Homo sapiens: one gene and its partners. The protein of the gene in region 2 interacts with the protein of the main gene of each other region in a pairwise test. Each region holds a gene or a part of one and is shown on either strand. Other genes may lie near its edges. The genes, in order: CKAP5, TACC3, SPATA18 and KIZ.

Evidence for each region.
Region 1: the proteins of TACC3 (region 2) and CKAP5 interact in binary tests that used the Homo sapiens proteins (3 or more experiments, as listed by UniProt).
Region 3: the proteins of TACC3 (region 2) and SPATA18 interact in binary tests that used the Homo sapiens proteins (3 or more experiments, as listed by UniProt).
Region 4: the proteins of TACC3 (region 2) and KIZ interact in binary tests that used the Homo sapiens proteins (3 or more experiments, as listed by UniProt).

Annotation. Positions count from the first base shown.
Region 1 is NC_000011.10:46,759,271-46,766,294, forward strand, and holds part of CKAP5 (cytoskeleton-associated protein 5), read right to left. Parts: intron 5,987-7,024; coding exon 5,861-5,986; intron 4,361-5,860; coding exon 4,211-4,360; intron 3,910-4,210; coding exon 3,706-3,909; intron 3,493-3,705; coding exon 3,357-3,492; intron 3,230-3,356; exon of another isoform or gene 3,119-3,229; intron 2,924-3,118; coding exon 2,730-2,923; intron 1,515-2,729; coding exon 1,342-1,514; intron 173-1,341; coding exon 1-172. UniProt on the Homo sapiens protein: Binds to the plus end of microtubules and regulates microtubule dynamics and microtubule organization. Acts as a processive microtubule polymerase. Promotes cytoplasmic microtubule nucleation and elongation. Plays a major role in organizing spindle poles.
Region 2 is NC_000004.12:1,731,521-1,738,544, reverse strand, and holds part of TACC3 (transforming acidic coiled-coil-containing protein 3), read right to left. Parts: intron 3,273-7,024; coding exon 3,220-3,272; intron 2,815-3,219; coding exon 2,711-2,814; intron 1,305-2,710; coding exon 1,217-1,304; intron 948-1,216; coding exon 843-947; coding exon of another isoform or gene 831-842; intron 198-830; coding exon of another isoform or gene 153-197; exon of another isoform or gene 1-152. UniProt on the Homo sapiens protein: Plays a role in the microtubule-dependent coupling of the nucleus and the centrosome. Involved in the processes that regulate centrosome-mediated interkinetic nuclear migration (INM) of neural progenitors.
Region 3 is NC_000004.12:52,047,399-52,054,322, reverse strand, and holds the start of SPATA18 (mitochondria-eating protein), read right to left. Parts: upstream 3,020-6,924; 5' UTR 2,619-3,019; coding exon 2,532-2,618; intron 1-2,531. UniProt on the Homo sapiens protein: Key regulator of mitochondrial quality that mediates the repairing or degradation of unhealthy mitochondria in response to mitochondrial damage.
Region 4 is NC_000020.11:21,121,419-21,129,105, reverse strand, and holds the start of KIZ (centrosomal protein kizuna), read right to left. Parts: upstream 2,991-7,687; coding exon 2,902-2,990; intron 1-2,901. UniProt on the Homo sapiens protein: Centrosomal protein required for establishing a robust mitotic centrosome architecture that can endure the forces that converge on the centrosomes during spindle formation. Required for stabilizing the expanded pericentriolar material around the centriole.

The DNA of each region.
Region 1 (7,024 bases), on a different chromosome or scaffold from region 2:
GGGTTCAGGAATAAGGACTGGCTCAAAAATGTCATCCAGTTTGTGCTGAACAAGTTCTGGCATTTCACATCGGACTGTACCATTGTCATTCTCAATCTCATCTAGATCCAGCTGGAATTCTCGGCGGACCATCTGGGCTGCCTCAGGATGCCCACTCATGCTTCGGGCTTGGCTAAGGGAAGCAAAAGGAGGCTCCTGAACTAAAAGAGACTTCTTAACCAAAGGGCAAGAGTAGCACTGTCAGTTGCCCCAAAGCTTCAGGACAGATGTTCAACTTCTGGTTTCAGCCCCCCTGAATGATTTAAGTCCCTGAGTCTAAGCAAGTGCCTTTAATAGGTAACAACATTGGTTCATGAATATCCTAAGAGGGCAGATAACTTTAATTTGTACTTACATTACCTGCCAAGTTATAAGTATTTGTTCTAGTTCACTAAAGCCAACAAACCTTGTATTTCTATTCCTGAAGGGGCAGAAAACAATAAAATATATTTGTATTGACTCAAAGTTCACTACTTATGAGCAAATATATAAGAAAAATTTAGACTGGCTGGTTCTTTTCCACCAAATTAACCAGTGCTTTAATTTTGCTAATCATAAGTACCATTCCATGCCGTGTTCAGCACATTTTATATTTTGTGAGACCACCAGTCACCCCTTTTTAGAATATTCACTCTTGACAGGTCAGGGCCAGCTTTACATCCAAGAAATAGGGATTCAAAGTTTCCAAATTCAAGTTCGTTAAAATTATACTCATGACACAACCCAAAATAGAGCTGTCTTGCTTAGGAGGCAGTATTTTGAGTCCCTAAGCCAATTTTGGGTTGCATGTATTTTAATTAGCCTTATCTCAAGAATAGGAAACTAAGCACAACCAAGTATAACACAAAGAAGAAAGTGAATCAGTATTTTAGCCACATGACATTGAACTTTTGTGGAAGACTTGATTCATGGGGTACTTATGGACACCCTCTACCCTGATTATAAACTCTAAGCTAGTCACCCTCCAGAGGGGATGAATCCAAGTCAGAAGTTAGAAAGATATAAGAGCCCTGCTAATGAGAAATTAGCAGGCAGTACTTACATCCTATAAGTGCGATACATAATTCTGTCCACGGAAAAGCAGTGAAAGAAGGCACAAGACCATTTAGAAGTGGTTTTGAGACAAAGACAAAGACAATGAAGACTGAAGAATCAAACATTTGGTTACAATACATTTACCCAGACACTCTGTCATGCATGATAATGGCTACAAGAACTCAAGATTATGTTACAGGACAGGCTGTGAGCACACAAGGCAAAGGCCATGGAGATGCTCTCAGACAAGTATCTCTATCTACATACTTGAGTTTGGAAGACATGTCCTCAGCTGGTCCCTTGCGTAACATGTTGGCATTGGAGCTTATGTTCTGTGCACGCTGAGGTTTCTCTTCCACCTGTTTTATTGGTGCAGCAGAGGGTCTCTTTGCTGACCGCTTAATCCTCTCCTCGAGCATGCTCATATCCTTTTCAGAAAGCTGTAAAGAGGCCAAATTTAGAAACCTAACTGGATAACACAATAATATCTATTTTCATATCAAAACAAATAGAACCTTCTATGTTAGGACATGTTTACTTTCAAAGCACCACATTTCAAAATCAACTACTATTAATACCTGCCTAGCTGCTATAGGAAGAGGAGATATGAAAGAAGGAGAGGGGCTGGGCACAGTGGCTCATGCATGTAATCCCAGCACTTTGGGAGGCCAAAGCAGGAGGATCACTTGAGCCCAGGAGTTTGACACCAGCTTGGGCAACATGGTGAAACCCCATCTATACATAAAGTATAAAAATAAGCTGGGTGTGGTGGCACGCGCCTGTAGTCCTTGCTACTCAGGAGGCTGAAGTCAGAGGATCACTTGAGCCTGGGAGGTCGAGGCTGCGGTGAACCATGATCACACCACTGCACTCCAACCTAGGTGACAGAGCAAGACCCTGTCTCAAAAAAAAAAAAAAAAAGAAACGATAAAAAAAAGAAAGCCAATTAGTAACTACAAATAAAAAGGTCAAAAATTAAATGAAGCTTCCTCATTTTTTGTTTTGTCACCACTATCTAGCTGTGTGACTATGGGCAAGAAACTTCATTTTTGGTCATCTGTAAAATTCCCAACTGCTTTATATTCTTCACTGGGTAGTAGTGAGAATTTAATTAGAAAATATAAGTAAACATATTTAAGCCCTGTGTAAATACATGGTGACACTATGAGGTAACTGAAGACGGAGGTCCAGACTCACTCAAACGAAATAAGAGGTCAGAGGCAGAACCTAATGTGAGTGAAAAACTGGCTCACGGCTGTAGCGCAAGATGTGATCTGACAGATACTAGCATCCACACTATACACAAATAAGCACTTTTTAACCAAAAACTCGATGCAGTAAAAATTACAGAGCAGACTGCCAGGCAGAATTTAAACCCGGGACTAGCTCAGATTTCTTGATTCAAAAATAGCACTCATTTCTAAAGCAAATTTGCTATGAATAGAATGCTCAGAAAAGAAAACTTGATTTCCATTAAAACAGCCTAATCAGAGACACCTCAAGGGTCTATCTGGATTCTAGGACACATTGATAGGTTGAGTTGACTAAAAAGTAGTAAAAACTTAGCTACAGTTGAGAGGACAGGAAACCTAACACCTAGGAGATCTTGCAATTCTTTTCACGACATGCTGACAGTGTTCAGAGAAGTCACTCACATTTCCAATCAGTTTGAACACCTGATCCCCATGTACATTGTACACCGTTACAATGGTGTTGAGTGCAGCATTGCGTACAGCATTGTCACGGTCTCCTATGTGAACAGCTATTTCCTTTAAGGCTTTTCCTGGGGTTGGTTGGCAAACATTCATGCCATAGGACTCAACCAGACATCCCAGCTCTTCCAGGCACTCTGATGGGGGAGAAAGGCTAGATTAATGAGACAACACATATTTGGGACAGAGACTTATCCTTACTAGAGAAATTTCCCTTGGCATATATGAAGGACTAAAACCTTACTCTGGCTCTGCCTAGGATTTTTTGTTTACTGCCTTTTATCAGTGAAAAAATGGTATTTCAGCAAGTGCTCCTGAAAGGAAGAGATGCCTGTGAGTCAGATGGCCCCTGTGCACTTGATTTTGTCACCAGGGTGATACTGAGTGGTGCCTGTATCACCTGATACCATGGCTCCACCAGTGTGCAACTCATCACTCTCACAGTCTAAATCAGGAGGTTGGAATCAACTACATAGGCACTGGAGAAATTTATTTGTTCATCTATAAACTATTTCTTCTATAGGCTACTGCTGCAGAGATTCACATCTCAGTTTAAACTGTTTGCTTCACCTGCTCTCTGCTTAGAGTTTTTGGATTTGGTTCCTTCCATGATAAAGGGAAACATCTTGCTAGCTGGGTAGACAAGGCACATCCGGTTCAGGATGGCACGAACATCTTTACGAATGACATCCTTTGGTTCTCCAACCTAGTCGATAAGGAAAATAATGATTAAGTGAGGCATTTCCTAAGTAGCAATGATTCTCCCATGCATTACTATGTTTTGAAAGAATAGGGAAATAGGGATAAGTAGGGAAGGTACCGTGATATAATCAGTAAAAAAGGGAGAGGAAATAAAAGTACAGAAACTGAGGTCAGCTGGGAACTTAAGCAGTCTCCCAGAGAGAGAACACCACATTACCTTGACGACAAGATAGGGGATGAAGGAAGATGCTTCATTCTCAGTAAGATGATATTCTTCTTCACTTAGCAAGGTGAAGAGCAATTTTAAATATTCTAGTGCTTTCATCAGGACGCTTGTATTGGTGTCAAAAAACCTCAGGGTAAGCCACTTTAAGATAAGATCCAGGCAACCAATAACTCCTTCTTTTTCACTCTCCAAGTGCTTAAAATAAAACAAAACAAAACTCCCACAAATAAGAATAATCAAAATCTTAATTCTACTAGGCAAGTGTCTTTTAAATTTTATTGGAGCCCAAAAAGAAAATGACAGATTTTTAAGCCTTCAATTAAGACCTAAAAAATATACACACACATTCATTTATTCTACCAAATAACAAGACAGCTCTAAAAATAGAGAACATAGTATATTCTACTTCCAAGTCATGCAAACTTCAGATTATTTCATAGGGCTCGGTATTTTTACATGTCTGAAATACATGTATATTTATCTATTGCAGACTTACATCAACCATAACAGCAAGGGCTTTGTTATGATGCTGAAAGTCTGAGTGAAACATCTCATCTTGTAACCATTTAGCCACACAGCTAGACATTTGAGTCTTTAGTTGCTCAATGTATTCATCCCGTGGGGTAGTAAAATTCCACTTTAGCACCTGGAAAAAACAAACGGTGAAAAGGGGCTACAGGGTGTTCAACTGAAATGAGGTAGAGAGCCTTATATAATGCAGCTGCAGGAACAATAAAATATTTAAAAATTCAACAATATTCATTTGTAATTAAATATGAATGCAAATTTCAAGGTGTCATACTTCTTGAAGCTTAACAACTCTGAAAATCTTCTAGGAATAAAAATTTTTGGAATTGTTTGTTTTTGAGACAGAGTCTCACCTGTTGCCTGGGCATGGCAGAGTGCAGTGGCATGATCATAGATCACTGTAGCATTAACCTCCCAGGCTCAAGTGATTCTTCTGCCTTAGCCCCCCAAGTAGCTGGGACTACAGACATGCACCACTATGCCCAGCTAATTAAAAAATTTTTTTCGTAGAGATGAAGTCTCAATATGTTGTCCAGGCTGGTTTTGAATTCCTGGGCTCAGGCAATTTGCCTGCCTTAGCCTCCCAAATTGTTGGGATGACAGGCATGAGCCACTGTGCCTGGCCTTGCAATTCTTACTAAAGAAAAAAAAAAAATTAATCCTACATATAACTATATAACATGGTGGACACTGCTGCCACATCTTTGATAGAGAGAAAATTTGAAATATCTATCAAAATTATGCATATCATCATTCTAGGAGTTTAATATAGATACACTCACATATGTGTACAAAGACCTACATTCAAAGATATTCACAGCAGCAGTGTTTGTAATAGTGAAAGACCAGAAACAACCTAAATGTCCAACATAGTGGGCGAAGGATAAAGAAAGGTACATACATACAATGCACCAATACAAACAGTGATACACACATATATACACAGATACGAATGATCTTTCAGATATTTCAAACATCATTAAAAGAAAATAGTGAGATACAGAACAAACAGTACGGCATGTCTGTATATGCCATCTGTATAAAAGGAGGGCTATATAAAAATATACATATGATAGTAGAGGTATAAAATATTTCTGGAGTAATACATTGAAAAAATGAGGACTAATATCCTCCCTGTGGAGGGATACTGGAACAGAGACATGCTTTTCTTACTATACTTTGCACTTTCTGTACTGCATATAATTTTTAAAAAAGATTATGTATTTTGAAAACAAATTTAAGTATCTAATGAAATCAAAGTAACATAAATGACTGAACTAGCCATTTATACAGTCACAAAGTCTGCCTTGTAAGGTCTTAAAAAGAAGGATTAATGAAGAAGCTTATACATCCAATTAATTAAAAAAAAAAATCAATGAAGATACCAAAAAAGCTACTAAATCATTTATTTCTATTTACAGGGAAAAATAGGCAATAACTCTATTCTATAGTTTCTTTTGTAGGAATTAATGCTCCCATAAACTAAATAATATAATTTATAAGCAAAAGAAACACTTAATTCCTAGATATTAAACAATAACATGAATTCAGACAGCAAAACTATTCTTGAATAACAATACAAGCAAAAATCTCCTGACGATTCTTAATCCTTCCTTACCTTCAATCCTTTTTCATCTTTCATCCTTTGCTCTTTTCCATTTGGAACAACAATAAAAATAGGCCCGGATTTGTCTTCATCCTCCTTTAAGCTGGTTTTGCTTGGCATCTTCTTCCCTTGTGCACTCTACAACCAAGGTTCAGGGAATACTGATTAGCTTGGCCACTTCTCCTTAAGAATATGATGCTGCTGCCCAGTAAAAGGGCACTGTAGAAAACAGAGATATCTTTCTACGTGATATTTCACATGAAAAAAACATGCATCACAGAATCTTGTATATGTTTTTGAACAGGTTCTCTAGAAATTTTTCTGAGAATATTCTTAAGTAACTGTTGGTTAGTTCTTGGACTGGCATGTTATGTAGTTGGAAAAACTGCTATTACTGATCATTAGTCTAGGTCACAAACTTTTTGTTTTTGTTTTCTTGAAATCTTCAACACTATTTATAGCTTTCCATATTAATGACATCTTTTTTTTTTTTTTTTTTTTTTTGAGACGGAGTCTCACTCTGTCGCCCAGGCTGGAGTGCAGTGGCGTGATCTCAGCTCACTGCAATCTCCACCTCCTAGGTTCAAGTGATTCTCCTGACTCAGCCTCCTCAGTAGGTGGGACCAAAGGCGCCCACCACCACCCCTGGCTAATTTTTGTATTTTTAGTAGAGACAGGGTTTCACCATGTTGTCCAGGCTGGTCTCGAGCTCCTGACCTCAAGTGATCCACCCACCTCAGCCATTAATGACATCTTGAATGGCATTTACACATTTCCAAACACTTAGTTTGAAAGCTTTTCTGTTTCTTTCCATTGATATTTAAATGTATCTCTTATCATAACAGTGTAACTGAAGACCTTTTGAACTTGCTTCTAGAGAAAGTTACAAGAAATGCTTTAAATATTTAAGTCACTAAAGTGGTTTTAAAAAATAATCCAAGATTTAAAATCTTCATATCAGATAGAAAGAAAATAGTAAACAATAGTACACATATTTAAGGTAAAATTCAAATTTCATTACTGGAATCATTATTATTATAAATGTAGCATGGCCACTATTTCTAGTTGGCCACAATTTCTTTCTAGTATAAACACTAATGTCATTCAGACCAAACAAATATGAGATCATTTATATGAAACTGCTTCGTAAGTTTAAAAAGATTGGGAAAAAAATTA
Region 2 (7,024 bases):
TGCATTTCTAACATAAGTTACATGCAGGGGCCACCTGCCCCCGGAGCCCAGGCCTGCAGAGGAGGGGGCCAGCCACACTGTGGTCCCCAGGCCTGCTATTGGGTTACTCACACGGGCTCTGACACAGGGAAGGAGGTTGTTGGGGTACGGGGTCAGGGCCACATCACAGGCCTCTGCGGAGATGACACCTGGGGCCACTGTGAACAACACTGGTGTGGATGTTGGGGCTTGAACCCAGCCCTGCCAGCCGGCCTCCGGAACCACCCTGTCTGCACCTCCCTGGGGACCATCTGGCGACGGTAGCTCACAGTGGTGCCTGCAGACACCCAGCCCCTTTGTGTGCCTACAGCTCTCTTAGGGACAATTTAGGCCCGGAGTTAGAACAGGCTGAAGCCTGGCATGTACAGTGAGGATGGAGGGAGACAAGGCACGGGACCCTCAGATGTGGGGTGGGTGAAGATGGAGCTTCCTAAGCTGCCAGGAGATGCGTCTGGACTCGTGGGAGGGCGGGAGGAAAGGGGCGACACTCGGGCTCACGGCAGCAAGAACCACACTCACTGCTGCAAGGCCACCAGAGGCCAACGCCATGCCCAGGCCGGAGAGTCCCGGGGAGGCTGCTGGTGGGCAGCTGACTGCGGGGACACTGGGTGGAAGCCTGGACCCTCAGCGACCTGGGCAGTAGTGACAGGCCAGGGGCCGGCAGCTCTCTGCAATTCCACCCCAACCAGCAGGGGCAGGGATGGCAGGGATGGCGGGTCAGGCTGTTGGACCCCTGCCCACTGTTGGCCAAGCCCCAGAGCGGCCTGCAGGTTCTGTGGAATAGCTACTACCTGCGTCCTTACCACTGCATCCAGGTCCTTCTGGCTGTACTGGAGCAGGTCCACTATAGGTCCGGTGGACAGGGGTGGGCCCCCAGGCGCGGGAACACCTGGGGGTGGGCCTGGCACCTGCGGGAGATGGGGATGAAACAGGAACCCATTTCGCCCTTGCCTCTTACCTCTGACCTAGTGTGAGGGAGGAAAGGCCCACACAGGCCAAGAGCCTCAGACAGTGCATGAGGGACCCGAGACAGTGCGGCGAGGGAACAGCACAGCGGCCCCATGCCCCCAACAAAACCAAAGGCTCAGACCCCCAGGAATAGAAAATATAGGCCCTTAAAACAACTCGTTCCCTCAGACCACACACAAGACAGTTCAAGAGGGACTCAAGGACTTACAGGAATGTCCAGTGCTCCCAAGAAATCGAACTCCACAAGCTTGGCTTCCCGCGGACGTCCTGAGGGAGTCTCATTTGCACCGTGCATGCTGCCACCAAGCAGAGGCAGCCTCAGTCACTAGGCCCTCCCAGTGTTGAGTAGGACACAGAGGACCATGTGGACAAGCTAACCGGGCTCTTTGCTTTTTAGTTTAAAACCACTCAAGTCAGGGTAGTGGTAGAAAACGCAGACCCGCATCCAGCATGCCCGGCCTCTCTGCTGCTCCGTGCCCCCCTCCCTCACCTGCCCATCCCACGTGGCTGCTTGTCCTTCCGGGAGAGCACGGTGACGCTTCATTACCCACTGCAGGCTGAGCGGAGCCAGTGCTGCCTCATCAGGGGGCTGTTCACAGCTCAGAGCCTTTTTTTTTTTCTTTTTCCGAGACAGGGTCTCACTCTGTCACCCAGATTGGAGTGCAGTGGCATGATCTCGGCTCCCTGCAACCCCTGCCTCCCAGGCTCACCCGATTCTCCTGCTTCAGCAACCCAAGTAGCTGGGATTACAGGCGCCTGCCGCCTCACCCGGCTAATTTTTGTTATTTTTAGTAGAGATGGGGGTTCACTATGTTGGCCAGGCTGGTCTCAAACTCCTGACCTCAGGCGATCCACCCGCCTCAGCCTCCCAAAGGGCTGGGATTCCAGGTGTGAGCCACTGCGCCCGGCCATGTGTTAGGATTTGAAGGCCACACAGCCTCTGTCACACTACTCAGTTCTGGCCTTGTAGTGTGAAAGTTGCCACAATTTGCAAAGGAACGGGCATGGCTCTGTGACGATAAAACTTTACACAAACAGGCAGTGGCCAAGTCTGGCCCACAGGTGATAGTTTGCTGACCTCTATTTTTTGGTTTTTTTTTTTTTTTTTTTTTTTGAGATGGAGTCTCACTCTGTTGCCCAGGCTGGAGTGCAGTGGCGCAATCTCAGCTCACTGCAACCTCCGCCTCCTGGGTTCAAGCAATTCTCCTGCCTCGGCTTCCCAAGTAGCTGAGACTACAGGTGCATGCCGTCACACCCGGCTAATTTTTGTATTTTAGTAGAGACGGGGTTTCAACATGTTGCCCAGGCTGGTGGCAAACTCCTGAGCTGAGGCTATCCATCCACCTCGGCCTCCCAAAGTGCTGGGATTACAGGCGTAAGCCACCGCGCCTGGCCTGCCGACCTCTGTTTTAGAGGAAGTACTCTTAAAAGATTTAAGTTTAGATCTTTAATATACCTAGAACGGTGGCTGTAACCAGCAAGGCAGCAGCCCTGTGGCTGGAGGGTAGGCTGCCGTTGCTCCTGCCAGACACACAAGGGCTGCTCTGGCCTTGCTGCCCAGCCCACCCCTAGCACAGCTCCTTTCCAGTTCTGATCATCTCCCCCCGGTCTAGAAGCCTCTGTGCAGACAGCACACCTAGGAACAGCCTCCAGTCTTCCCACACTCAAGGCTTCATGCATGAGGGAGGGCCGGCGCACATACCTGCTGGTCTCGGTGGCCACGGGCACTGGTCTACCAGGACTGTCCCTCAGGAGGGGGTCGAACTTGAGGTATAAGGACTGCTTCCTCAAGGCCGACTCCTTAAACTGGGGACAAGAGGGCAAGTGATCAGGTCTGACTGCCATCCCCTAACACACACGGGGGCTAAGGGCCAGGGAGGTCACCTGCACACTCCCACCCCCGGTCACCCGCACACTCCCACCCCCGGTCACCCACAACCCTGCCCGAGACACCACCATTCCCAGCAGCACAGCGTGTCAGAGTTTCATCCTGGGCTAGGCACCAGGTAGAGAGCCCTAGAGCCCTGCCACAGGACACCACTTAGAGGAGGTGCTGCAGAAGGGGCCCTGGATTCACAGCCCGCCACAATGCCTGGGCCTGTGTGCAGCTGGGGGGACGTGGGCACCAAGGGACGCTCCGGGGGCAAGACCTGCCGTGGCTGCTCTCGGACACCCTGTGGGTGAGGCTTCGCGGAATTGCCTGGTACCTACCGAGGAAGTTCCAAACTGCTCCAGGTAATCCACCTCCGCGCCCGTGCCTAGAACTGAGAGGAGTGAATCATGCCGCCGCCATCGCCCCTCACCAGGGCCCTAAGGGCGGCGGGCTGGTGTCTCCCTCAGCACTCAGTGAGGCAGGATCATTCCAGCCAGCAGTATTTCCTCCCTTGGAGGTGTGGATGTTCGGGGCCTGACTGCTGTCTGCGGCAGGCGCCTCCTGGGCACCGCAGGGTGCTGAGCGGCATCCCCAGCCTCTACCCACTCCCTGCCAGCAGCACCTCCAGGTGTGACAACCACAAACATCTGGGGAAAGGCGGGGGCAAAACTGCTCTGGTTGAGAACTATTAGTCTTTAAAATTACCCTAGACAAGTCTTTTAATTTTTGATAATATAACTTTTGATTAAAACTAAGGGTGGAGGCTGAGGCGAGTGGATCACTTGAGCCCAGGAGTTCAACAGGGCAAAACCTTGTCTGTACAAAAAATACAAAAATTAGCTAGGCGCGGTGCTGCACTCCTATTACAGGGAGGCTGAGGCAGGAGAACTCCTTGAGCCTGGGAGGTGGAGGCTGCACTGAGCTGAGATTATGCCACTGCACTCCAACCTGGGCAGCGGAGGGAAAACTGTTGCAAAAAAAAAGAAAAGGTGCCTCATACCACATACAAAGATTAACTCAGAATGGATCAACACCCTAACTGTGAGAGTTAAAACTATCCTACTTTTTGTTTTGGTAGAGGAGGAGTCTTGCTACGTTGCCAGGGCTGGTCTTGAACTCCTGACTTCAAGTGATCCTCCGGTCTCGGCCTCTAAAACTATAAAACTCTTAAACTGTGGCTGGGCGCAGTAGCTCACATCTGTAATCCCAGCACTTTGGGAGGCCAAGGCAGGTGGATCACCTGAGGTCAGGAGTTTGAGGCCAGCCTGGCCAACATGGGGAAACCCTGTCTCTACGAAAAATGCAAAAATTAGTTGGGCACGGTGGCATGAGCCTGTAATCCCAGCTACTTGGGAGGCTGAGGCAGGAGAATCGCTTGAACCCAGGAGGCGGAGGTTGCAACAAGCTGAGATCATGCTACTGCACTCCAGCCTGGGCGACAGAGCAAGACTCCGTCTCGGGAAAAAAACAAACCAAACTGGTACTTTAAGACAGGGTCTTGATCTGGCTGAGATCCAGGCTGAGGCATCTCTAGTTTTGTCCCTTTCTTCATGCCTAGCAGTATTTGCTCATTCTCTCCTTTTCTCAATTAAGCTAAAAAACGGTTGCCAATTATTTAGTCTAGCAAAAACTTGTAGGTCCTTCTCTGCTATGGCCTTGTCAGTTTTCTTTTCTTTTTTTTTTTTTTGAGACAGAGTCTTGCTCTGTTGCTCAGGTGGAGTGCGGTGGCGCCATCTCGGCTCACTGCAACCTCCGCCTCCTGGGTTCAAGCGATTCTCCCGCCTCAGCCTCCCAAGTAGCTAGGATTACAGGCATGTGCCAACACACCCAGCTAATTTTTGTATTTTTAGTAGAGATGAGGTTTCACCATGTTGGCCAGGCTGATCTCAAACTCTTGATCTCAGGTGATTCGCCCTCCTCAGCCTCCCAAAGTGCTAGGATTACGGGCGTGAGCCACCGCACCTAGCCTTGTTGTCAGTTTTCATTTCTGCCTTTTTTTTCTTTCCTTCAGATAGGGTCTCGCTGTCGCCCAGACTGGAGTGCAGTAGTGCAATCATGGCTCACTGCAGCCTTGACCTCCTGGCTCAAGCGAGCCTCCCATCTCAGCTTCCCGAGCAGCTGGGACTATAGGTGTACGCCACCATGCCAGGTAATAAAAAAAAAGGTTTTTTTTGGTAGAGATGAGGTCTTGCCATGTTGCCCAGGTTAGTCTCAAACTACAGGGCTCAAACAATCCTGCCTCGGCCCCGCAAAATGCTGAGATTACAAGTGTGGGCCCCTATGCCTGGCCAAAAGCCAATACTTTGAAACATCATCTGATAAGGGACTTAACTTTGTATTTTTTCCTTTCCCTCACTTCTTGAATAAAAGGGATTTACCTCTTAAAACTCAGTAATAAAAACATAAGTGGCTCAATGGACAAGGGATCTCGACAGACACTTTCCCAAAGAAGATATCCAACGAGCACATAAAAAGACGCTCGTTCATGAGCCACCTGGGAACTGCAAATCAAAACCGCAACCAGATCCGCTTCCCACCCGCTGGAAGTCTAGGATCAACAAGACAGACAAGCAGCGCTGGCGAGGATGTGGAGAAACTGGAGCTCTCTTATAACTGCCAGTGGGAATGTGAAACACTGCAGCCACTCTGGAAGGCCACCTGGTAGCTAAAAGGTGAGCAGAGTTACTGTGACCAGCGACTCCACTCCTAGCTATGTATCCAGGAGAAATGGAAGAATACATCCACATAGAACTTACACCTGAACATTCGAGGCAGCACTACTCCTGACAGCTAAAAAGCAGAAACCAGCAAATCCATGAATGAATGGATAAGATGATGTGAAGCCAAGCTGCCACGGCAAGGACAGGAGCACCCACACCTGCTCCAGCATGGCCAGGACTCGGAAACACACCTCCCCGAGGGAGACGCCGGACACAGAAGGCCGTGCTGTGTGATTCCAGGGATCCTGCGTGAGGGTGACAGGCCCATCCCAGCTGAGCTGATATCCCCACATGGTGGCGGCCCACAACTATCCTGTCAGCGACAAACCCTACATGCCATTCGTGTCTGCTGTGTGCCTGGGTTTTCAGTTCTCTAAATTGAGATCTTATACCCACCTGGCTGTGTGTCCTTTAAAACAACTCAGCCATCAATTCCTACCAAATGCACTTTAATTTAAGGACCGTTCCACCTTCCAATCTTACGGACAAACCGTATTTATTTAACTGCAGCCTCCAATCTTACGGACAAACTGTATTTATTTAACTGCAGCCTCCAATCTTACGGACAAACCGTATTCAACTGCAGCCTCCAATCTTACGGACAAACCGTATTCAACTGCAGCCTCCAATCTTACGGACAAACCGTATTTATTTAACTGCAGCCTCCAATCTTACGGACAAACCGTATTTATTTAACTGCAGCCTCCAATCTTACGGACAAACCGTATTTATTTAACTGCAGCCTCCAATCTTACGGACAAGCCGTATTTATTTAACTGCAGCCTCCAATCTTACAGACAAACCGTATTCAAGTGCAGCCTCCAATCTTATGGACAAACCATGTTTAACTGCAGCCTCCAATCTTACAGACAAACCGTATTCAAGTGCAGCCTCCAATCTTATGGACAAACCGTATTCAACTGCAGCCTCCAGTCTTACGGACAAACCGTATTTAACTGCAGTCTGGTGTCTAAGGTTCAGGCTTCACATTTCATTATCAAGGGGTTCTGGGCCGGGCGCGGGGGCTCACGCGTGCAATCCCAGCACTTTGGGAGGCCGAGGCAGGTGGATCACTTGAGGTCAGAGTTTGAGACCAGCCTGGCCAACATGGTGAAACCCCGTTGCCACTAAAAGTACAAAAATTAGCTGGATGTGGTGGTACATGCTTGTAATCCCAGCTACTTGGGAGGCTGAGCAGGAGAATCTCTTGAACCTGGGAAGTGGAGGTTGCATTGAACCCAGATTGTGCCACTGCATTCCAGGCTGGGTGACAGAGCGAGACTATCTCAGAAAAAAAAAAGAAGGTCGTTTCAAGCAGTATTTCTGATGATCGAGTATCCAGTTGTTGACTCTACACTTGTATCTCATTAGCGCACTGCATTGTTCACCTCTCCTGCTCATTTTCCTGAGTCTACAGTTTCCA
Region 3 (6,924 bases), about 50 Mb from region 2:
TATCAACAGGTGAAAAGTTTTTCAGGCAGAGAAAACAGTGAGTGCAAATGCCCTGAAGCAGAAGCATGTCCACATCTCTAGAACTGTGCTGTCTGAGACAGCAGCCATGAGCTGCATGTGGCTATCTGAATTTAAATTGGACTTAAGTCAAATTAAAAATTCTGTTCTTCAGTGTGTACTTGCCACATTTCAAGTGCCCAATAGTCACCTTATTGGACAATGCAGATATAGAACCTGTCCATCATCATAGAAAGTTCTATTGGACAGCATTGCTCTAGGACGAGCAAGAAAGCTGGTACTGCTGGAGTGGGCTGAGCAAGGGAGAGAGTAACAGATAAGGTTAAAGAGCTTAAAGGGGCACAATTGTGTAGGACTTTGAAGGTCACTGTAGGAGCTTTGGCTTCTTCTGACTGAAATAGGAAATTTGGAGTGTCTTGCAAAAAGAGTAACTTGATCTGACTTGACATTTAGAAGCATCTCTTTGGGTTGTTATTTTTGTAATAATCCAGGTGAAAGATGATCAAGGATGGAGAAGGGTGGTAGCAGTGGGGGTGGTGAAAAGTGTTTAGATTCCGTATGAACTTTGAAGTTAGAACCAACAGATTATGATGGTGAAAAGGGAGTGGAGTATATAATGATGAAGACGACTTAGAAAAATGAGACCTGTGGTTGGGGCATGGGAGAGGCTAAATTCCATTTTGGACAGATTTGACTTTGAGCATTCTGAGCATTTCAATAGCATTCACTATTGAAAGATGTCCAATGGGCAGTTGGAGAAGTGAGAGCTCAGATGGGAACACATCCTATAGAAATAAGATTCATCAGCATACTTGTAACAGATGAAGCAGGAGTGGAGGGGGAAGAATACAGGTGTCAACATTCCAATGTGATAATGATGCCTGCAAACTCAAGAGAAATGATGGAACCTGGGGAGTGGCCACAAGGTATGAAAAACACTGGTGGCTGTGAGTGCAGCCTCTACTGTAGAGAGATGAAGGGAAAACAGCTGGATGGAAATGGTTTTAATGAGAGCAGAGAATGGGATGTTATCAAGACAGGAAAATGTAATAAACTAAGGCACTTCTCATCACTTACAGGGAGTTTCTAAAATAATTGTTTATTAGTTCCAGACAAATCCTAGTGTTATTTGTAATAAACATTGTGACAAACAACATGTTTTTTTAAAATTCAGAGTTTAGTTAGGCCACTGGGCAAAAAAAAAGGGGTAAATACTGTATACATGTTAGAATTTCTTATTCTCAACCTCCTGAGACTAAGTAGTAGGTACTTTTAAAATTAGTTGGGGGGAACCCAAGTCTTTTATGATAAAGAGGTCATTTTAACTTTCCAGAATTCTTAATGGAGAAGGAATGGTCAGCGCTTGTTCTTTAAAAGGGAGCAAAGGACTGAACAGGAAGCACTAGAAAGGAAGGCTAAGGAGAAAGCTGTAGCTGCTCTTTGAGCTCCCCTCCACTTCAGGAGCACTGGTTAAAGGGTGAATGGGGAAGCCTAAGGACCTCATAACAGGCAGGATCTCAGAAACAAGCTAATCTAGGCTCAAAAACTTAAAATCTGAACAGGAAATTTACATATCATCTAGACCAATCTCTGCTATTTCACAGATGAGGTACTAAGACCAAGAGAAGTTAAATAATTTGACTCCGTCATTCAGCTAGTTCTATGCAGAGCCAAATGTAGAAACAAGGGGGGGCTAATTTCCGGTCCACAGTTCTTTTGCCTGGCCGCTCCACTTATTATGTAAGAGGGGAAATCCCTATTTAAGACGGACCGACCGAATGTAAAGCAAATTCAACACTCACCGTTCTATTTGGGGGAAGGGGGGAATTATGGGGAGGCAGGGTGCGAGTAGGGATTAATGAGATTTGAAAAGTGCTCATGGGTTTGGTGACAGAATACTGGCTTCTCACAAATGCCTGGAAAAAGGCCTGAATCCGCCCTGGTGTTGGAACTGTGCCTCAATTTCCAGGCCCACCAGCACGCAAGTGAAACCCGCAACGTTAACAAGTGTCCGTTTCGCTGATTTCTGGGTAAATAACTCCTGGGTGTGTGTTTATACAAATCCATTCTGATACAAACCCTGGGCAGGAGAGGGTTGTAGTAAAAAATAATTCGGGATTGGGGAAGCAGGCGGTGTGGATTGCGCTGGCAAGGGGGATGGGAAAGAGTGGCAGGCATGACCAGACCAGCCGCGGACAGCAGGGCTTCCCTATTGCTAGGTCGCCGGCGTCCTTAGTTACCACTGATTGGAAGCACTCTCCAGTCTCCGCAGCCTAGTGCTGCGCTCCGCAGGCCGCCTGCGCGCCGCCTCCCGAAGCTCTGAGACAAGGGCATGTACACACATGTCCTTCCTTCCCCAGCGATCCCGGTCGAAAGCTGAGATCCTGGTTAGGAATCGCAACCGCGGAGGCTTTGCAAAGTGGCCACCAACTCCAGCCCTAAGAAATCCCCGACAAGGGCTGTGCTGGAACCTATGGGAGGGCGAACCCCGGGGGTTTTTCACCCAGACTCACGTTGTACTCCTTCAGCCAGAAGTCTAGCTTTTCCTGCAACGTTCGTAAAGTTTCGTTTGAGACCAGTCTTTTCAGGTTTTCCGCCATCGCTCACTATTCCTCTCGGCCCCACGCTGCGCGATGGAGACTTGGGGGGACCAGGCGGTGGCCTCCGCAGGACCGTGGGGTGATATGGCGGGAAGGGTGTTCTCTTCTGGGGGGCTCAGAGCGCGGCAGGTGTTTCCATCCTCCCCCTCGGGTCGGACCTGGCCGGGTTCGGGAAGCCAGAGGGGAGGTGCCCTGGGCCGCAGCCGCCGCGCCTCATCCGCCGTCCCGCGCGGTCTCCTGGCTCCCCAGCAGCCGCCTGAGCCCGGCCATAGATACCCTGGCGATTATTAAACAAACCTTGACGTGGACGGGTTGGCTGCCAGGGACGCGCGCGGCCCGCGTCGTGGCAACGCCCGCGCCGCCCCGCCCTGGGTGACAGCCGCGCGCCCCAGGGGTGGACTGAGACGCGCAGCCGCGCGGGCTGGAGGGCAGCAGGGCGTCTACAGCATTCCTCCCCATTCGGGGTTCTGGGTGCCCACGCGTGTCCAGAAAAGCAGAAGTTAAGTCTCTATAGAAGTTTGGGGCTAGGCTCTCAGGAGATCACCTCTTTGGCCCCTTTATTCTTTCGCCTTTCATTCCTTTAATTCTTCATTTGTAGCGCCTTGGGTTTACCTGTATGAAACTTGTAACTAAAATTTCAGTACTTCTTACTTCTAGCTTTTACTTTGTTCCTTGACCCACTGGGTGGGTACCCAAGTTAATAGAGTTTAGCTCCAGGATGTTCACAAATTAAAGTTAATCCCTCAGGTTTGGATAAGATTTGGCAGTATGTATTTTAGTACTTTTTTTTTTAGAGTCATTGAGCACTCTAAAGCTTCATTTAATTCTGAATTCTCTAATTGGGACTTTCTTGACCTAGTTTGGCACTATTTCAAAAGTGTGTATTCTGCTACAGAAACAGGTTCAACTACTTAGGAAACCATTTCGACCATCTTTAAGCGCTTTCGAAGCAAGCTCTTTTATATACCATCAAAAAATGTGCTGATTATAAATCATTCCTATCCATTCATTAAAACAGCGGTGGGGAGCAGAGCCTCAGCTGGTTAGCTAGCTAGTTTAACTTAGTTTCATCTCTGTAGGTACTTGAAAATCTGTGAACACTGCATATATTCAAGTATTGTAAAATCAAGAATTTTCACCACCTCTCATTTTTTATTTCTCTTGATTACAGTGGCTTTACTATCTGCTAATGAAAATGAAAGGCTCAGTTTTGGAGCCTGTGTTCCTACTATTTTCTGTAGACCACAAAATAAGGACTATAGGGGTATAACATGTTATTTGATTGGAGTAGAATAATAATTTCTAATGTTAAAAATACCCACTCAACAAAACAGCTAAATATTCATTAAACAACTTCATATATATATATATATATATATATATATATATGTAAAATGAATTGAGAAAAACTTCAAATTTCTCAATTTGGACCTAATAATTACATATTTCTACAGGCATTTGGAATCTTTGAACAGTCCCATTTACTTATTCATAAAAACCCATATTGGAACATTTATGTCAGATAAATTAGAGGTAAAGGATTTTTCCTTGCTGTGAGCACCTTAATTAGCCTGTAATCCTTGGTTTCATCATCTGTAAAAGGAAAATAATTCTCTCATAGGATTATTATGAAACTTAGTAAGATAATTCATGTATTTAGTACAATGCTTGGCAAAATGCAGTAGCAATTGCTCTAGTAATTGCTGTTTATTAAATATAAACTAATACTGGCCTACATTTGCTATTATTAAGAATGTGGATTAGTATGTTTATATTTAATAAAGAAAACTAGTTGTAAACAATCTAAACCTCCAACAATAGGGTAATGGTTAAGCAAATAATGAAATGTTGCACACTAAAAATCTTGTTGTTGTAGAATATATACTATCTACAAATTTTCACTATAACGAAAAAGGCAGAACACTAAATTGTATACACTGTGTTAAATTACACAATGTGAACCCAAGGTATAATTGTGGGTTATTTTAATTGCTCTTTTATATTTTTCTGATTTTTTCAAGTTTCTATCATGAATATGAATTGTTTGTATGAAAACTTATTCAGAAAAAAGTTACCCCAAACAGTTACTAACATGGTTTGGCTGAGTCCTTGCCAAAATCTCATCTTGGATTCCACGTGTTGTGGGAGGGGTCCAGTGAGAGGTAATTGAACCATGGAGTCAGGTCTTTCCTGTACTATTCTCGTGATAGTGAGTAAGTCTCACAAGATCTGGTGGTTTTGAAAAAGGGAATTTTCCCTGCACAAGCTTGCTGCCGCCCATATAAGATGTTACTTGCTCCTCCTTGCCTCCCACCATGATTGTGAGGCCTCCCTCGCCATGTGGAACTGTAAGTCCATTCAACCTCTTTCTTTTGTAAATTGCCCCGTCTCAGCAGCTTGTAAACCAACTAATACAGTAAATTCTTATGGGGATTGCAGCGCCACTGAAAATATATCCAAAAATGTGGAGCACTTTAGGAACTGAGTAACTTTCTGGAACTGAGTAACAGGCAGAGGTTGGAACAGTTTGGAGGACTCTGAAGAAGACAGGAAAATGTAGGAACGTTTCGAACTCCCTAGAGTCTTGTCAAATGGCTTTGACCAAAATGCTGATAATGATATAGACTATGAAATCCAGGCTGAGGTGGATGGAAATGAGGAATTTGTTGGGAACTGGAGCAAAGGTGACTCTTTTTATGTTTTAGCAAAGAGACTGGCAGCATTTTGCCCCTGACCTAGAGATTTGTGGAACTTTGAACTTGAGAGAGATGATTTAGGTTATCTGGCAGAAGAAATTTCTAAGTAGCAAAGCATTCAAGAGGTGACTTGGGTGCTGTTAAAGGCATTCCATTTTGAAAGGGAAGCAGAGCATAAAAGTTCAGAAAATTTGCAGCCTGACAACGCAATATAAAAGAAAATCCCATTTTCAGAGGAGAAATTCAAGCGGGCTACAGAAATTTGCATAAGTAACAAGGAGCCAAATGTTAATCCCCAAGACAATGGTGAAAATATCTCCAGGGCATGTCTCCAGGGCAGCCTAGGGACTTGATGCCCTGCGTCCCAGCCACTCCAGCCATGGCTGAAAGGGGCCAATGTAGAGCTCTGGCCATGGCTTCAGAGAGTACAAGCCTCAAGCCTTGGGAGCTTTCATGTGGTATTGAGCCTGCAAGTACACAGAAGTCAAGAGTTGAGGTTTGGGAACCTCTGCCTAGATTTCAGAAGATGTATGGAAACACCTAGATGCCCAGGCAAAAGTTTGCTGCAGGGGTGGGGCCCTCATGGAGAACCTCTGCTAGGGCAGTGCAGAAGGTTAATGTGGGGTGTGAACCCCCACAAAGAGTCCCTACTGGGGTGCTGCCTAGTGGAGCTGTGAGAAGCCTCTGTCCTCCAGACCCTAGAATGGTATATCCACAGAAAGCTTGTACTGTGTGCCTGCAAAAGCCACAGACACTCAACACTGGCCTGTAAAGGCAGCCCAGAGGGAGGCTGTACCCTGCAAAGCCACAGGGGCAGAGCTGCCCAAGACCATGGGAACCCACCTCTTGCATCAGCATGACCTGGATGTGAGACATGGGCTCAAAGGAGATCATTTTGGAGCTTTAAGATTTGACTGGCCAGATGCGGTAACACACACCTGTAATCCCAGCACTTTGGGAGGCTGAGGTGGGTGGGTCACCTGAGGTCAGGAGTTTGAAACCAGCCTGGCCAACATGGCAAAACCCTGTCTCTACTTGAGCGTGGTGGCGGGTGCCTGTAATCCCAGCTACTCAGGAGGCTGAGGCAGGAGAATCACTTGAACCTGGGAGATGGAGGTTGCAGTGAGCTGAGATCACACCACTGCATTCCAGCCTGGGTGACAGAGCAAGACTCTGTCACCAAAAAAAATAAATAAATAAATAAATAAATAAATAAATAAATAAATAAATAAAATAAAAATAAAAAAATTTGACTATCCCACTGGATTTCAGACTTGCATGGGGCCTGTAGCCCCTTTGTTTTGGCCAATTTCTCCCATTTGGAATGGCTGTATTTACCCAATGCCTGTATCCCCATTGTATCTAGGAAGTAACTAACTTGCTTTTGATTTGATTTGATTTTTTTTTTTTATTATACTTTAAGTTCTAGGGTACATGTGCACAACGTGTAACTTGCTTTTGATTTTAAAGGCTCATAGGTGGAAGGGACTTGCCTTCTCTAGGATGAGACTTTGGACTTTGGACTGTGGACTTTTGAGTTAATGCTGAAATGAGTTAAGACTTTGGGGAACTGTTGGGAAGGCATGATTGCTTTTGAAATGTGAGAACAT
Region 4 (7,687 bases), on a different chromosome or scaffold from region 2:
ATTTGCCTCAATGAAAAGCCTTTCCATGGCTTGCAATTCTTACATATTAAATCTCTATTCAGAATCTTTGAAATACCCATCCCTGGGATGCTTACCCATAGTTCATGTTTTCAGTCACCCCTCACTTGGACCTTTCAGTTTTACACAGCTAAGTGGTCCTTATCTTGCTGAGTTTTCTACTTTTAAGCCACTTGTTATTCTGTTTTTGTCTCGATACCACAATTCTATACCATCTTCAGCTTACTCTACTAATATCTCAGTGTCAGTTTCTAGACTATTATGATATCTTACTCTGAATCAATATAGGCACTGAAAAAACCGCGGCTGGCTAATGGGCCCTTTTAAAAGGATGTTTTTGTATAACCGTAAGAGCCAATTCCACTTATAAGTTTCTACCATGCTTGTGGGTGCTATACACACTGTAACAAGTCACTCCATTAGACTCTTTTAGATTCAATTATTGACTTTCACCACAATGCAGAAAAAACACTGTACACACATAGGAAAACATTCAGACGATAAAATTACATCTACGTGTAACTACAGCTAACATGACTTGGGCTGGAAATATGCTGGTTATTTGACCAGCTAACATTGCAATGACCACCTCTAAAAGGGCTGAGAAAGAGGGAGTTTTTTTTTGTCTCCCACTTCCCAGAAGTTTCTGGATTGATAAAGCAGCTGTGACTACCCAGGGTTGCTCCCTATGAAATGACTCAGGAATTTTAGGAGACAGTGGTATCTGTGATCAGTGGGATGCTTTGTGTTTCTTTGTTTAAAAAGGTACAACCAAGGCCGGGTGCAGTGGCTCACACCTGTAATCCCAACACTTTGGAAGGCAGAGGCAGGCAGATCACCTGAGGTCAGGGGTTCGAGATCAGCCTGGCCAACATGGTGAAACCCCATCTCCACTAAAAATACAAAAATTAGCTGGGGTTGGTGGTGGGCGCCTGTAATCCCAGCTACTAGGGAGGCTGAGGCAGGACAATCGCTTGAACCTGGGAGGTGGGGGTTGCAGTGAGCTGAGATCATGCCATTGCACTCCAGCCTGGGTGACAGAGTGAGACTATGTTTCAAACAAATAAACAAACAAACAAAAAGGTACATCCAAACACTCAAATTGGATACAGACAATAATATTCTTTACACATTGCTTTGCAAAACTACAGCTTTCAGCTTTTTTTTCTTTTTTTACTTTAAGGCCCATTATTCTAGCAAAGAGAGAAAGAAAAAAATCTGTGGCCTTACTTTGCATATTAGTCAAGCCCCCTCATTCCTGGTAAAGAACCAAGGTTCAGAGAGGTGGAACAACCTGCTCAAGGTCACACAATTGTTCGTGGACTAGAATCCAGGTTTTGATATTTCTACTGCAGCCTTTTCTGTATCTAGAATTATTTGCCTCTATAACTGTGTCCAGTGTGCATTAATTTGAGTTAGTTATAAATTCTTAAAATGAAAAATGAACACACACAGCAACAGATTTGTACTGACTTAAAAATAAAACAAATCTCGAAATGCAGAACCGTGAACAGGCTATAAAATTTGATTCACATTCCTTATATATTTTCAACAGCCTCACCTTGTTTAATAATTAAATAAGTGTTAATCATAAAGTACATAATTATTATACAGTTATTGTGCCATAAGGACTATAAACAGCCAGGTGTTCCTAGCACAGGAAACAAAAATAACTTACAATTAATAGTTCAAAAAGAATGCCATTTATGAGTGCTGTAAGAATGCCAAGAGTCACAAAAGTTAGGGAATGGGTTGAAACAGGGAAGGCTCTACAGGAAGAGATTTCTTTTTAAAGTCAGAAATTAAGAGGTCACTGATATGGGTGAGCGGTGACATGTCAGAAAGAAAATAGGACGTAGAAAAGGAGTACAAGGTAAAAAAAATGCTAACGACAATTAAGGAAGCCTGTTGTAGATGCTCTATAAATATCTGACAAGAATTAAATCTAGCGTAAGATAAATGTAATTCCTTTTCAAAATCGCTCACTTCTGCCTTTATTTTCCATGTAATTATTGTTATCATTTTAGCACTGTCACGCACACAGCTCTCCTGTTCACTAGAATGATTTTGTAACTTTTAACACTCATTAAATGTTTTGTTTATCAAGAGATCCAAAAATGTATTTCCTTTCTTGTCAACTAATGAGAGTTACAACTCCAATTAACTTAGCAGCTAAATAAGAGGTCCAGCAATTTATCTTTTACGTGGTTATTCATAGTACATTGCGGTATAATTTTCTCTCTATATGCACTCTTAGATCTAGCTGTTTTCAGTGGTTCCCATCTTTCATATCTTAATCAAAGGCATCATGAACCCTCTGGAAGCTGGACTTCTCTAGCTGGAAATTTCATCCCTTCGCTGGAAATCTAGCCAGCCCTCGCTACCCCTAAAAGTCTCCTGAGTTTAAACGGGGGCACATGTTTGACACACACACACACAACCGTCTGCGTTCCAGGACTTGTCATCATTGATGCAGTGCAGCTGTCACGGCGGGATGGCAATTTGAAGAGAGTGGGGAGGGGGCGTGTAAAAGGGGACAAGAGAAACTCACAAGGCTTGATGGAGAGTGACAGGCAGAAGAACTCCCACCTTCACTTCTGGGCAAATTCTGTGACGCGGCCGCATCCTCAAACCGTAGACCAGGCTTTAGCTGCTATTGACGGGGCGGGGGCGGTCTCTCACCTCTCTCCGCTCCCACCCCCAATACAGGGGGTGGCTCTAGTAAACACTGTCCTCCAGGCCCCACTGGGAGCCTGGGGGGCGTTGCGCGCGGGCCTGGGCCCCGGGGAACCTCGGACGGGGGAGCGGGAAGGAAAATGGGGCAGGGCACGCGGAAGACCCCCGGCGCGGGCCGACTCCCCACCCCCGCCCCAGTGCCCTTACCTGTCCCGCAGCCCGTGCTGGAGTTGGCCCAGCCTCTCGTAGTAGTCGGGACTCGACAGGGGCACGGCCGATGCGAGGGTCCGGCTCATGCTGCTGCCGCTGCGCCAGCTCAGCACAGCCTCTGGGTGGCCGTTCGGCCGGGGTTGCCGAAGGAGACCGCCCCACCATGCACCGCGGGTAAACACCGCGCCGGGCCGCCTGCAGGAGGCGGGGCAAGACGCCGTGGGGGCGGGGCGCCGCTGAGGGACGGGGCGGAAGCCGGCTTTGTGGGGGGCGGGACGAAGACCTGCATGGGGCGGGGAAGAGGCGTGGCAGAGGCGGGGCGTCGTGAGGCCGGGGCGGACCACGTCGGAGGGGCGGGCGCTCGGTGCCCTCTCCTCTCTCCCTTGACGCGGTGTCTCCTTTCCCCTCACCTTCCAGGATTCGCACAAGCTACGTTAATGTTACAAGGCGCATTCCCTCCCTTTCTTTCGTCTCTCGCTTGCTTCTTTTCCTCGATCTCCTTTCTTGCCAGGATTTGTTGAGTGCCAGGCACTGTACTAAGCTTGTTCTATTATATCAGCACTCAAAAGCGACACAAAACACCAAGTAAAAAAAGACAAACCCTCAAATGCTAAACAGCCGTGCTCAGCCCCGACAGTGGACCAACCCCTTACTCGAAAATCCGTGCTGAATCTAAGGATTGTTCCAGGTGCCAGTATCGTTGGCGAGAGGGAAAAGTTGATAACTAGTTGCTTGGGAAGCAGACGTTTGTGCAGACAGCTCTAAGGGACAATGCTCCTAATGTCCTGTAGGATCCTCTAGCAGGAGCCCGGGAGCCAGACTGCCTGGGTGTACATTCCCTATCCACGTCCCAGCTGCCAAGCCGTGTGCAAGTCACCCCAGGTTTCCTCATATGTAAAGTGGGAGGCTGTTAACACAGGATTAGTTTAGGATTCGATTGTTAATATGTGTTAGTGTTTATAAGTGGGCCCAGCACATAGAAAGCATCAGGTTTTATTATCATCACCAACGTCGGGAAAAAGCTTCCTGAAGGAAGCCAACCATATTTCAAAACCCACTGGGCAGAAAAATTAAGCCTTAGCCTGCTTCTCTGCCTTCCTTTCCTTTTTTTTTTTTTTTTTTTTGAGACAGAGTCTCACTCTGTTGCCCAGGCTGGAGTGCAGTGGCGTGATCTCGGCTCACTGCAAGCTCTGCCTCCCGGGTTCAAAAGATTCTCGTGCCTCAGCCTCCTGAATAACTGGGATTACAGGTGTGCGCTACCACACCCAGATAATTTTTGTTTTTTTTGGTATTTTTTATATTTTAAGGAGAGACGGGGTTTCACCATGTTGGCCAGGCTGGTCTTGAACTCCCAACCTCAGGTGATCCACCCACCTTGGCCTCCCAAAGTGTTAGGATTACTTGCATGAGCCACCATGCCCGGCCTGTAGAGTTTCTTTAGTCTCTTATTGTTCACTTCTTTTGGTTTCTTTCCTATGCCATTAATTTTACTTACACATACAAGGTGCAAGGTGTGACAAACTAAAATTGTAAGAGAGATGGAACACTCAAAGGCCAACAACACAAAACTATGATTTTACTCAGCCTTCCATTCACATTTGCCAGTTCCAGGGCAAGAGTGTGAATGGAGGCCCTCATACCATCCGCCTAAATATTGAATTATAATTCAAGATAACAAACTTAGGTAAAATACGTGTTCTCCTCTCCACTTTGACCAATATGCCTTCTTAAGAACCTGGACAACCAGGGTGGAATTTAGTTTGCCTGCTTCTCCAGCTCCCCCCAACTCCATTTCCCACCCCAGGCTCAGTCTTGCTTTGTGAGGGGGTCTCATACACTAGCAGGGATGTGTGTGCCCTGCCTCTTCTCCTCCTCTTCTCCAGCCAGCAAGTCCCAACTCTGCCTACATCCCCACCTCAGCCTCCTCTTGGCCGGGCAGTGAGCATGCCAGTGATGGTCACCCTTGCAGGAAAGACCCAGCCAAGAGGCCTTTTAAAGCCTTAGAAAGCAGCTTGGGCCCCTTTGAGCAGGGAAGGTAAGGGTGTTGGGTACTTAGAACGTGTTCTAGAAGAGCATGTGTGTGTATGTGTGTGAGCACCCCAGGTGGGCCTGTCATCTGGCCCTGGGACCTCCTTGCCTTGCGTGGAGCAGCATGGGCAGAGAAGGGCTAGAACAGAACCTCTAATACACAGAAGCCAGGGCAGAGGCCTTCTTGCCCTGGTCCAAGGGTAGCACTGATGTGACTTTTATTTAGTTTTTATTCAGATTATATCCAATTGATTCAGTGGTAATGTGCAAAGGTTTATTTTAATGAGTTTAGTGTAACTAACATTTTACTACAACCCTGGCAAAGAAAAGAAAAGCATTAAATTTTTAGGATATTTTATTTAGGACCATGCCCCCAGGGTTAGTTTTTTTTTTTAAGAAAAAGAATCCCCAAACAATTAATATAACTAATTTTAGCAAGTAGCACAGAGTAAGCAGATGAGGCAGTCATTTAGCACCCAAAATTTTTATTAGGCCATTTTAGGAGAATCTAAAATTAAATGTAATTAAACAGTAAATAGATAATTCAAAATAATTATAATTTACATCCTATGGTTGATTCATTAATGACGTATGACAAATCTAGATGTAGGATCTCCTTTATTAACAATAACACATAGCAAACAAAAGGAATATTTCTAGAGTATTTATGCTAAAATTATGCATTTTAAATGGTGACAGGCTTTCAATAAATTCTGAGTTCTTCACTTTGAATATTTAATTTGCCAGAGCCCTCTATTTTAATATTTTTCTTCAAACTCTTTATTTAGCTGAGCTGATTTCTGTAAGCAGCCCTGCTTTTAGCTCACTGGACCAAGGGTCATCAAGTCTGCCTAGATCAAGGCTTCCTCTAAGTCCTAGAATGTCTTAGCTAGAACTTAGAGGGAGTCTAGCCCCACCCCCTTGTTTTACAGGGGAAAAAGGGTTCAGGGCAGATAAGGGGCTTGGCCAAAGTCACCTAGCTGGAAATCTATGTAATATTAACGAGTCTAGTTCAAAATATGGATCCCTAGTGGTCCCATTAAGCAAACAGCAAGGGAAGCCAGTGTCTCGGCCCAGAAGTCACATGAATCTTTGGGTGAACCAAATGAAATTGTTGTTTTTGTAGCTCAAAAACAAAATTGATTCTGGAAAATATATTGAAATTAGAATTGTACATATATTCTAATATTGGGAAATTCTAATTTCAACATATTTCCATATATATGTATATATACATTACATTTACCAGTTTATTATAAGAATATCACAAAAGATACAGATGAAAAGATTCATAAGGTGAGGTCTGGGGGAAGGGGTGTAGAGGTTCCATGCCCTCCACGGGCACACCACCCTCCAGGAACCTCCTCCACATGTTCAGCCAGCTCAGAAGCTTCCTGAACCCTGTCCCCTTGGGTCTTTTATGGGGACTTTATTGGATAGGCATGATCGACAGTCGTGTAGAAGCGTGATTGGACAAAGGGGACATGATCTAACACTAATTGAGTGGGAAACCCAACAAGTCCTGTTCTGATTCATCTCGGCCTCTCAATGCAGCAGAAATTTTTTTTTTTTTTGAGACGGAATTTCACTCTTGTTGCCCAGGCTGGAGTGCAATAGCATGATCTCAGCTCACCGCAACCACTGCCTCCCTGGTTCAAGCGATTCTACTGCCTCAGCCTCCTGAGTAGCTGGGATTACAGGCATATGCCACCACGCCTGGCTAATTTTGTATTTTTAGTAGAGACAGGGTTTCTCCATGTTGGTCAGGCTGGTCTCGAACTCCCAACCTCAGGTGATCCACCTGCCTTGGCCTCCCAAAGTGCTGGAATTACAGGCGTGAGCCACTGTGTCTGGCCTGCAGTAGCATTTTATATTTTAAAATGTACACACTATGCTGCTTTTAATTAAATCATGTATATTTAGTCAATAACTGCTTGGATATTATATTAATTTGCTAGGGCTGCTGTAAGAAAGCTCCACAAACTAGGTGTCTTAAACAACATGATTTATTGTGTTTCAGGTCTGGAGGCTAGAAATTGAAGATCAAGATATCTGCATGGCTCGTTCTTTCTGAGGGCTGTGGGGAAGAATCTGCCGCATGCCTCTCTCCTGGCTGCTGGTGGTTTGCAGGCTATCTTTGGTGTTCCTTGGCTTCTAGACACATCATCTTGACCTCTGCTTTCATGTTCACATGGTGTTCTACCTGTGTATGTGTCTCCAAATTCTGCCTTTTTATGAAGGCACCAATCATATTGGATTAGACGCCCACCCTTCCCCAGTATGATCTCATCTTAACTAATTACATCTGCATTGACCCTGTTTCCAAAGAAGACTGCATTTTGAGGTACTGAGAGTTAGAACGTCAACATATGTATTGTGCAGGGGACACATTTCAATCCATGATAGATATGAAAGTAGGACAAGATTTCATTTTGCAGTCATTATGCAGACATATCCAATCTGGTAGCCATTAGCCATGGCTATTGGGCAATTGAATATGGCTAGTGCAACTGAGAAATTGAATTTTTAATTTAATTTTTATTTATTTATTTATTTTGAGATGGAGTCTCACTCTGTTGCCAAGGCTGGAGTGCAGTTGTGCAATCTCAGCTCACTGCAACCTCTGCCTCCTGGGTTCAAGCAATTCTCCTGCCTCAGCACCCTCTAACAACTGGGATTACAGGCACACACTACCACACCTGGCTAATTTTTGTATTTTTAGTAGAGACAGGGTTTTGCCATGTTGACCAGGCTG